Linked DNA regions of Homo sapiens: region 2 is linked to region 1. The links come from fine-mapping of genetic effects on gene expression. Tissue or cell type: whole blood. Region 1 holds a variant in brackets; the other region holds the start of a gene. All regions are shown on one strand. Distances are from middle to middle.

Region 1 (5,433 bases):
CCCAGACAGAACTCATTCTTGACTTGAACCTGATTTTATAGCAGTGCCTTTAGTATTTCACCATTGTTTTTCACACTTCCTCTTGGTTTCTAATAGGTTTGTAATACAGAGGGAGTCTTTGCATTACCTCTAACACTAACAGGGTTTTATATTTTTCTTTTAAGAGGATAGGATGGATGTTGAATTATGTCAAATATCTTCATAAGCAGCCAGTAAGATGATGGTATAGTTTTTCTCCTTTAGCCTGTGAATGTCCTAGTGCTGAAGCCACGTTGGTTCCTAAGATCATCCCTGTGTTAGTGGTTTTGCAGATCGGGAAGGTGAAGTTGTTGCCTTGAAAATATTTCAGAAAAGGTAGCATGCTTTATAACCTGTGCTATACCTGCTCTTTTTAACTGTAAATCAAGGAAATTGTCCTCTATCAGTTCATAGGGTGTTTCCTCATTTTTTTTTTATTGCTACAGTGTTCCTTTGTGTGGTTGTGTCATAGTTTGTTTATTCAACCAGTTCCCAGTAGTGATAGATATTTGAGGTGTTTCCAGTCTTCTGCTGCAGTAAGCAACCCCATAAATCCATTATTTTGTAGGTGTGTGGATATACTTTAAAGTAAATTCTCAGAAACGGGACTGCTGTGTTAGAATGAACCAGGAAGCTTTCAGCCTTTTAGAGATAGATTACTAACAGATAAACTCTGATAGACTCAGGTAAACAGAGTTTAGACAACTTGGCTATAATATATTCCTATGTTTGATAAAACATCTGCAGACAAGACAGTTGAGCCTGGAATTGCTGCACGTGTGTGTGCATGTGTGTGTGCGTGCTTCTTTCATACCTTTTATGCTTTCTTCTTGATATTCATGCTTTCTCATAGCGATTCACATCCTTCAGTCTCTCATTTTTTTTAATGCACTTAGATTTTCCAGCACATGATGGAAGCAAGGAAGGTGATGAAATCATTGTTAGACATTGAGCAGCTTGGGGCCAGACACCTTGGCAGGTGCTCTGAGTATATTATTTCGAACTCTCATTTCAACCACACCAAGAGCCCTTTTGAACTCTTTTTACAAAATGAGGAACCCAGAGCTCAGTTTGCTCAAGGTCCCCAGCTAGGAAGTAGTAAATGCAGAGTTTGAAGCCAAGTCTATCTGCTCCACAGCCATATCCTCTTTATTAGCCACACCCATCCAGGATTTTTCCCCCAGCGTTCCTATTCCCAGTCATTCCCAGCTAACAATGAGTTGGGAAAGACTGATGCGTGGTGACATGTCCTAATAGTTAAAAACAATACCATTCAGCTTCTGGCTTATTCTTTTAAATAACAGCTCTGTGTTGCTATCTTCATTTTGATGCCAATCAGGTAAAATTAACAAACACTTGTGGAACATCTTTCAGGTGGAAAGCATGAGGCTAGTTGCTGTAGGGAATACAGAAGTGTAAGTCAAGACTTATGCTGGACAAGCTGAAGCTTAGTCTTGCCAAGCAATATGTACATTGACTGGTTAATGTAGCCTGTTTCTTTTTAGTGCTGAATAATATTCTATTGTCTGGATGTGCTGCAGTTTATTTATCCACTCGCCTCCTAAAGGACATCTTGGTTGCTTCCAGGTTTTGGCAATTATGAATGAAGCTGTTATAAACATACATGTGCAGGTGTTTTTGTGGATATGTTTTCAACTCCTTTTAGTAGATACTGAGGACTGTGATAGCTGGGAGGAGAATTTTTTTTATTATTTGAAATTTTGTTTTTGAACTAAAATGGTTTTTAAGGAATAAAAAGAGGAAAATTGTTGTGCTGGGATCTCTGCGTGTCTCAGCAGGTTATAGCAACACTGTCCACAACAGCATCAGACACTCAGCCAGATGTGAGTCGAGTTGCCTCCCGTGTAGCTGGGAGCAGACTCAATTGCAGAGCTGGTGTCTTATACTCGTAGAGCTCCTCTATCCTCCTTGAACCTTCAGGCTCTGTCTCCATGCTTCTCACACAATGATCTCCTTTGCACAACCTCAGAGCACAACAGTGCTTCTTTTCTGCACAGAGCACTCCCCTGTCTGGACTTTTGTCGTCCTCAGCCTTGCCTTTTTCTCTCCAAATGTAGCAGAGCAGTTGGCTCACCTTGTTTTCCATATCCTCTACCCATGGATTTCTGTTATCCCTACTCCCTCATCCCTACAACCCTCAACAGAAGTAAATCCAAATCAATGAATAAAACAACTGGACTTTGTCATATAGAGGGTAATTCCCCAAGAAACAGGACGCTGTATTAAACTCTTTCAAAAGAGTAAATGAGTTACCTTTTATATGACCAAATTGCTTTCTAAAAGGACTAATCCAAGTTAAAGTGCAAATTTAAAAGCCTCTGAATAAAGCCTAAGAGAGAAGTACATGGCATGGACGATTGACAAATATAATCCAAGAGCAGGAAGTAACCAGATATGAATTGTGAGATGCTGGGAATTCTCCCGAAGTTGGTGTCAAACATACTCATTAAACTTGATACTGTCTGTACAACGAAAGGGCACAGAAGGGAGTGGTAATACAACACAGGGTGCGATCCAGGAAAATACCTTATTTATAGAAGAGCAAGGCTGTAAGGGACTGAGAGCATACAGGGCCACCCTAGTCTCACAGCTGAGCAAATTCAGGGAAGCCAGGGCCCCACCTAAAATCAAATCTGAACCTCTGCCACCTAGTTCAGCACTCTTTGCCCATTTAGAAGGCATTCTGAAGTGATTTTGAAAAAATCTTTATTAATTTCTTTTTTGCAAAGTTAAAATATTCATGATTAAAAATATATATATAAAAGTTTGTATACTGAAAAACATCTCTCCTGCCTCTTTTTTTTTTTTTTTTTTTTTTTTAATTGAGACGGAGTCTCACTCTTTCGCCCAGGCTGGAGTGCAGTGGTATGATCTTGGCTTACTGCAACCTCCACCGCCCAGGTTCAAGCGATCCTCATGCCTCAGTCTCCCAAGTAGCTGGGACTACAGGTGCCTGCCACCATGCCCAGCTAATTTTTTTGCACTTTTAGTAGAGACGGGGTTTCATCATGTTGGCCAGGCTGGTCTCAAACTCCTGACCTCAGGTGATCCACCCACCTCGGCCTCCCAAAGTGCTGGGATTACAGGCATGAGCCACCGCGCCCGGCCCTGCCTCTCTTATTAATTT[C/A]TTCTGTACCCTTCTAGTGTTTCTTTGTGAAAATACAATCAAATATAAAAATGTGGGAAGGGGGTGAGGGATAAAAAAACTACCAGTTGGGTTCAGTGTACACTGCTCAGGTGATGGGTGCACCAAAATCTCACAAATCACCACTAAAGAACTTACTCATGTAACCAAATACCACCTGTTCCCCAAAAACCTATGGAAATAAAAAATATTTTTAGAAAAGAAAGAAAAAATTAAAATATTAAAATGCATTCTTATTTCCATTATTTTTTACATAAACAATATATCAAGGAGATCCTTCCACATAAGTGCATAGAAAGTGTCCTTGTTCTGTTTTAAATTATTGTGTTGTAAGGCTGAATCATAGTATATTTAACTAATCTCTATTTATGGACCCTGGGGTTATTTCTAATCTTTTGCTCTTACAACCTGTGGCGTCATAACTAACTTTGTACATATGTCATCTCATAAGAATGTATATCTGTGGATTCCCAGAAATGGATTTGCAAGGTCAAAGAGTAATTGCATGTGTACTTTTGACGAATATTACCAAAATACTTTCCCAAAGGCCTGTACCATTTTGCATTTCCATGAACAGAGTAGAAGTGTGCCTGTCTACCCACAGCTAGAGTTAGCCCTTGCTGGAGATCTGTCTTCCCAGGTTATAGTCTTCTTGGACTAAGATTAAATTCTTTCATCTCTTGAATACATACTTGGGGGCATTAGTCCTGAGGCATGCTGGGTGACATGGAAAACCAGCATTGACTCAAGAACTTGGCATGGCTAGAGCTCAATGTATAGTCCAGAGTATCAGTGTCTGTCACCCCAGATTAGCTCTTTCTTGCACTTCTCTTTGAGAGGCTGTTTCTTAGAATAGCCTTGAATGTTGGGCAATCAGGTGATCAATTCTAATTTTATCCTCAAAGTAATCCTGGAGAAGTGAGGGGGCAGATATGACTTCCGCTTGACAGATGAAGAAGCTGAGGCACAGAGGGAAGAGATAGCACCCTCTTACTACCCTCTTCTCTTCTGAGATGAGCCCCAGTTGTAAGATTGGGGTCTTGATGAACTGGAGAGCATTTTGAGAGGGCAACACTTTGAGGTGGGGTTGCCTCCTGCTGGGGAGGTGCAGATCATTCAGAGGGAGTAGAGAGCAGCACATTGAAGGCCTCTCCAGGCTCCAGGCTTTAGATAGAAGAAAGAAACAATCTTTAGTTCAACTTTGATCCCTAGTTTACTTGTGTTCTTGATGTTCCTTTGGGCCAGGGGCTGGACCTCATTCATCTTCGTACCTGGAACCTCTAGGATTAGCAGGGCCAGGGCAGCAGTACAAACAGAGGATCCCAGCCCCCAGTCTTCCCCCTTCTCTTCCTGGCCCTGGCTCCATCTTGCATCTCAAAAAGCCCTGTGCACTGGCCTCAGCCACCCCTCAGGCCTGGGAGTTCACTCACAGGCAGCAAGGTCCCCTCTCCAGACCCAGAGAAGATGCTTGTCCAGGCCCTGGAATCAGGATCAGGACTGTTTGGATAGGAAATTCCAGGGTCCCAGGTACCTGCAAGATGGCCCAGAAGGAAGTTTGGACTCCAGATGGGCACATCCCTTAGGGACCATAGATTTCCCCAAAGAAGAACCCTCTAAAACATAGGTCCTAGGTCTAAGAGTGATGCTATGGGAAATAATCCAGTTAAATCATGAATTCAAAGGGACTAGACAAAGCTGGAAAATCCAGGTATGAAAAAGCTAGATGCAAGTCAGAGAAATCTGTTCATAAGAAGGTTTTAAATGGGGAGAAAGGAAGCAGAGGTTGTAGGAGCCACATAAGCAAGAAAATATAAGTATGATACATATTATGGGATGGGATGGGATGGAGCTGTCATAGAGTTGGGGTACATTGTCTTATAGATGTTCATGGAGCTGGCTGTAAGTGGGAGCTATCCTTTTCCAGACAGCAATTCTTGTCTTCTGTCCTCTGCTTAGAAGGCAGAGGTATCTGTAAACTCAGTCACAAAAGTCCTTCCCAGCCTGGTTGTCAGGCCATTTTACTCCACCCAGATTCAGGGGGCCCTGCCTCAAAGGATATCTCGTTAGGTTTGTTGAAACAGAACCTTAGCACAAAGGCCCTACTGCAATACGAGTCATGCCAAATCCATATCCACTGAGAGGTTCCTTACAAATATAACTAAGTACAAATACCTCCAAGAAAGTCATGCCATGGTGAGTTTTCCTTTGACTATCAGTCCTTCCCACTTGAGAACGTATTCAATTTCTTC
Region 2 (5,433 bases), 140 kb before region 1:
TGAATCTTTCACATCTAGGCAGCTCTCCTCTGAAAGTATTTCCATTTTCTACTGTCCCTCTTAAAACACAGCATCTACAAATGACACTTAATTCCACAGGTGGTCTAGCCAGTGGGAACTGGGGAATCAGCTGCAGGTTGCACCTGCTTCTGTCCATCATTCCCACTGTGGGTTCATACCATGGGCACAGTCCTAGGCCTCACCTAGGGAACTGCTCTTAAGCCTCCACCACCCACACTCATACTTGTCCTAGATTTTATACTTGTCCTTAGACAGTACCACCTTGTTAGTTTTAGCTCTGGCCCATAACCTGATTTTGTTAGCTGCAGTGTCTGTGACCCCTTGTGACTTTGGGACATCCAGATATCATTTACCTGCTCTTAGCGTCCCATGAGACTAACTGTACTTTATTTGTACAGGGCTCACCTGTATCTGGGCTGTTTTGTGGATGGCTTTGTAGGATCATACTTTTGCAGCAGAAAAGAACTTAGACATCATCTAGTCATTTTGCATACAGGGCATCTGAGGCTCAGAGAAAGCACTGACTAGCCTAAGGTCACACAGCTCTGGGAAGTAACTATGTTGCTTGGTTTGTCATCCATGGATTTACTCAATGCTGGCTGTTCTTGGTGTCGTGTGTCCCTATGGCTGTGCCATCCTCGTGTTCCCTTTCCCTGCACTTTGGCCACACATAGGAAATATCTAGGATATGCCTGGATCATTGCTCACCTGTTCCAGGGCCATATTTGGCACTGTGGGTCCAGCCTGTGGCCTCTGTGAAGCCCAGCTCCCGGCAGAGGATGTGGGCAGCCTGCAGCGTGAAGTCATCATCGCAGATGGTGCCCCATTCACCAGCTCGCTGTATCTCCACGCGGCCCTCGTAGGGCTTCCTGGGGAAGCCAGCCAGCCGGAACCGAAGCCCCTGGCTCCCGGCCTTCTTCTCAGGGCCCGTGGAAGGGGACGGAGACCCCAAGCACGAACTGCACAGCAGGCACAGCAGCAGCCCCCAGGGGCTCCACTGCCAGACACTGACAGGTCGCATGGCAGGGAAGGCCTGGGTGCCCCAGAGACAAAGTGTGCGTGAGAGAAACAGATTGAGTGGGGCCCAGAGTCAGAAAGAGAGGGAGAAGTCACGAAAGAAAAACAGACACTGAGTAAGACAGAGACAGCGAGAGACAACAGGAGAGAAAGAGCCCCAGGGACCAAGAGACAGGGAGAGAAACACATTAAATAAGGGCTGAGGCACAGGTCATAGAGGCACAGCCTGAGAGACCCAGAGATAAGAGACAACTATGAGAGATCGAGAGTCAGAGAAGGGTCAATAAAAAGAGATAGAGACTGAGCAAGAGACACGTAGAGAGAGAGGAAGACCCAGACAGACAGGATGTGAGAGGAAGGGAGACTGTGGGAATGAGAGAGAGAAAACCAGAAAGACACAGAGGAGAGAGACAACGGATAGAAAGTGATAGGCAAAGAACTAAGCACTCAGTATAGGGGAACCAAGCACACCGCGGGTGAGAAGGAGAGGGATTGACAAGAGCCAAGGGGCGGACGTGGGAGGGATCCAGATGACCCCATTTACTCAGAGGGAGGACAGACAGCTGTACTGATTGTGCAGAGAGGCACGTAAGGGGCCCTAGGCGGCCCTGGGATCACAGATCCCCTGAATGGGAGCCCAGAGTCCTAACCCAGCAGATTCCCAGGCAGGGAAGGCTGGCACCAAAGCTCGCCTGGAGAACCTGCTGCACGCCCTCCCCAACACGCAGGCTCTCAGATGCCCTGCAGGGTCAAGAGGCCCAGGAGGGCCAGGCCTCAAGGCTGGGCGGGGGATGGGGTAGGGTTGTCCCAGCCTCCTGCCAACACCACCATCCCTGTCACCGGGCAACGGGAGGCCAGGCGCTATGGCTCCTCAGCCAAGGCCTTCTCTGCCTAGGGCTGAGAACAGCCCCTCTACAGCAAGCCCCCGTCAACATGCTTCCCCCAACCCAAACAATCAATCCAACAAGGCAGCTTTGTTCTGGGTTGGGGACCCAGGGGCAGCGCCTCCCGGAGGAGCCCCCTCCCTTAGGGCGCTCCTGGCGGCCCTGTTCGAACACCCGTAGCCCCCGCCTCCGGTATGTGCCTCCTCCGTGTACTCTGTCTCACTTGCCCTTTGACAAGAATCAAACTCTCAGTTGGGTGGCTTCCCCTCGACTCCATCCCACACCACCCGTTTTCCCTGGTCCCTCCACATCCTCTCCATCCCCTACTCATTCCCTCTGCGGTTAGCGTGACTCCCCCTACCTTGGCCGAGCAGGACCCTAAGGGCTGGGAGAAGAGTGCTGGTCCTGGAGATCAGTCCTAGGACTTCCAAAAAAAAAAAAAAATGCTCGGCCAGGGGAGACTGGACCCCCCTCTCTCCCCCTTCTCCGTTCGTCCCTCCCACATCCCCCTGAGCCCTCCCACATTCCGCCTTCTCCTTCCATTCCTCCCGGCCAGTTCCCTCCTCTCCTCCTCTGGGTCCTCCCTCCCCGTGGAGCTGGCCACTGCCGCGCCCCCTCCCCCTCCCTGGCCCTCCCGGCTCGTTCAATGAAGCTTTCTCTTCCCGCGGCATGGAGGCCAGGCCTCTGCGGTCAGGGAGCTGACATGCAAGCGGCGGCCGGGCGGCGGGGCGGCCCCGGTGGTGGCGGGAAGCGGTTCAACCCCAGCCCTCCCTCCGAGTCCCGGGCCAGCGGAGTCTAAACAGCCCGGCTCGGGCGGGGCTGGGGGCGGGCCCGGCCAGGGTAAATAAAGCCCCGGAGGCCCGTGTGGGTCTCTCCGGTGCCCGGGGCGCTTTCGGGGTGATGTCATGGCTTTCACTCTGACGTCACCTTGGGCATATGACGTCACGCGCAGCCACCACGCCCAGAGGCCAGGGCCCTCGCGCCAAAACCGAGGACTTTCGGTGGAGCCACTGGCGCGCCCCCACGACGGCGGGTAGGGGCCTGGGGTGCTGCAGCTCCCGGCTAATCCGGGGGTCTCCACCATTCCTTCTCGCTCCTCTCCCTCACCCCACCGCGACCCCCCCAGCGGCTGCCGGCGGGGGCCGGGGAGGGGCGGAAACTCCTCCAGGGAACCCGGCCCCGCCTCCCGCCCCGCCTCCCGCCGCAGGGCCAGGAAGCGCGGAAGGAACCGCCGGGGGCCATGGACGGAGCAGTGATGGAAGGGCCGCTTTTTTTGCAGAGTCAGCGCTTTGGGACCAAGGTAGTCTGGCGCATGGATGCCGAACCTTATCCGGGCTAGTAGTGGGTGAGAGAGCCCAGAAACAGGGAGAGGTGGGCAGCGGGCTGGAGAGCGGCGCCGGGAGTTGGAGAGCCTGTGACTTTCCCGTGAAGTTGCTTTGCACACTCCCGGGAAGCGTCTGTAGTCTAGGGGTTCTGGTCCTGGGGAGACGGAGTGGCATCGTCCTTGGGAAACTTCGCCCCCAACCCCGTTTGGAAGCCCCAGATCCCAAATCGACTTGCGCCGCAACCTCCTTCCCCGTCGGGACCCGGGCCGCCTGCGCACGCCACTCCCTCTCGAGCACTCTCTCTCTCTCCCTAGAGGTGGAGGAAGACCTGGGCCGTGCTCTACCCGGCCAGTCCCCACGGCGTAGCGCGGCTCGAGTTCTTTGACCATAAGGGGTCGAGCTCTGGGGGTGGCCGAGGGAGCTCGCGCCGCCTGGACTGCAAAGTGATCCGTCTGGCTGAGTGTGTGAGTGTGGCCCCCGTCACCGTGGAGACCCCCCCTGAGCCCGGCGCCACTGCCTTCCGCCTGGACACTGCTCAGCGCTCGCACCTGCTGGCGGCCGACGCGCCGTCCAGTGCAGCCTGGGTGCAGACGCTGTGCCGAAACGCCTTTCCGGTGAGGAGCTGCGGCGATGCGGGGTGGGGGCAGTTACAGAGGCAGAGAAATGGGGCTGCCTCAGACCGACCCCCGCTCCCCGCTGAGGAAATTACGGGTTTCTCGATGCTCTCTACTACAGAAAGGCAGCTGGACTCTGGCGCCTACCGATAACCCACCTAAGCTTTCTGCCCTGGAGATGCTGGAGAACTCCTTGTACAGCCCTACCTGGGAAGGTAGACGCCTCAGAAGCCCGGGCAGGGATGGAGTGAAGAGGAGGAGGGCCGAGGGCCTTTGGGAAGTGGGTGGATACCCAGGGGCCCATGGGGAAGTAAGAAGTAGGAAGGCCCTGAGATCTGGCTTCCGAGTGAGTGCTTGGACACTATGCTCATGAGTCCTCTGGGTCCCCACTGCTGCCCCCGTCCCTCCCCCGCAGCTGTCTAATCGTGTATGCCTTCCAGGATCCCAATTCTGGGTAACGGTGCAGAGGACTGAGGCCGCCGAGCGCTGTGGCCTGCATGGCTCCTACGTGCTGAGGGTGGAGGCTGAAAGGCTGACTCTCCTGACCGTGGGGGCCCAGAGTCAGATACTGGAGCCACTCCTGTCCTGGCCCTACACTCTGTTGCGTCGCTATGGCCGGGACAAGGTGCAGGGGCTGTCCGGGAGGGCTTCCTGGGTTGGGCAGCTGTGGGAGGGGTGGGGCAGGACAGAAAGTGGGAAGCTCTGACCTTTGGATCCCCCTTTCTTGCCTACCCGGTGACCCCGCGTCTGTTCGCAGGTGGTCTCTTCTTTGTAGATACCCTAACTAGTGCAGGCGTGTGACTCACTTCCTCTGATGGCTCCTGGTAATGTGTTTCCCCCTCTACCCTCCTTAGGTCATGTTCTCTTTCGAGGCCGGCCGCCGCTGCCCCTCAGGCCCTGGAACCTTCACCTTCCAGACGGCACAGGGAAATGACATCTTCCAGGCAGTTGAGACTGCCATCCACCGGCAGAAGGCCCAGGGAAAGGCCGGACAGGGGCACGATGTTCTCAGAGCTGACTCCCATGAAGGGGAGGTGGCAGAGGGGAAGTTGCCTTCCCCACCTGGCCCCCAAGAGCTCCTCGACAGTCCCCCAGCCCTGTATGCTGAGCCCTTAGACTCCCTGCGCATTGCTCCATGCCCTTCCCAGGACTCCCTATACTCAGACCCCTTGGACAGCACGTCTGCTCAGGCAGGAGAGGGAGTACAACGGAAGAAACCTCTCTATTGGGACTTGTATGAGCATGCGCAGCAGCAGTTGCTGAAGGCCAAGCTGACAGACCCCAAAGAGGATCCCATCTATGATGAACCTGAGGGCCTGGCCCCAGTCCCTCCCCAGGGCCTTTATGATCTGCCTCGGGAGCCCAAGGATGCATGGTGGTGCCAAGCTCGGGTGAAGGAGGAGGGCTATGAGCTCCCCTACAACCCTGCCACTGATGACTACGCTGTGCCACCCCCTCGGAGCACAAAGCCCCTCCTTGCTCCCAAGCCCCAGGGCCCAGCCTTCCCTGAACCTGGTACTGCAACTGGCAGTGGCATCAAAAGCCACAACTCAGCCCTGTACAGCCAGGTCC

The links. PIP is the estimated chance that this variant, and not a neighbour inherited with it, causes the effect.
Region 2: DOK1 starts here. The variant in region 1 is fine-mapped to the expression of DOK1 in whole blood (TOPMed, PIP above 0.99).

What each region holds. Positions count from the first base shown.
Region 1 is chr2:74,693,351-74,698,783 of GRCh38, forward strand. It overlaps a transcript of SEMA4F not described here. Among named protein-coding and RNA genes, the nearest start is that of SEMA4F, 42 kb to the left of the region's middle. The variant C/A (reference allele first, on the strand shown) is at 3,167.
Region 2 is chr2:74,551,593-74,557,025 of GRCh38, forward strand. DOK1 (docking protein 1) reads left to right here and starts at 3,128. Exons shown (of 5, transcript NM_001381.5): 1 at 3,128-3,222; 2 at 3,562-3,861; 3 at 3,983-4,076; 4 at 4,302-4,486; 5 at 4,716-5,433. The coding sequence starts at 3,163. It overlaps LOXL3 (lysyl oxidase like 3), which reads right to left and starts at 2,350. Exons shown (of 14, transcript NM_032603.5): 1 at 2,284-2,350; 2 at 730-1,054. The coding sequence starts at 1,042. RefSeq lists silencers at 1,170-1,464, 1,450-1,744, 2,470-3,219 and enhancers at 1,450-1,744, 3,228-3,745, 3,370-3,429.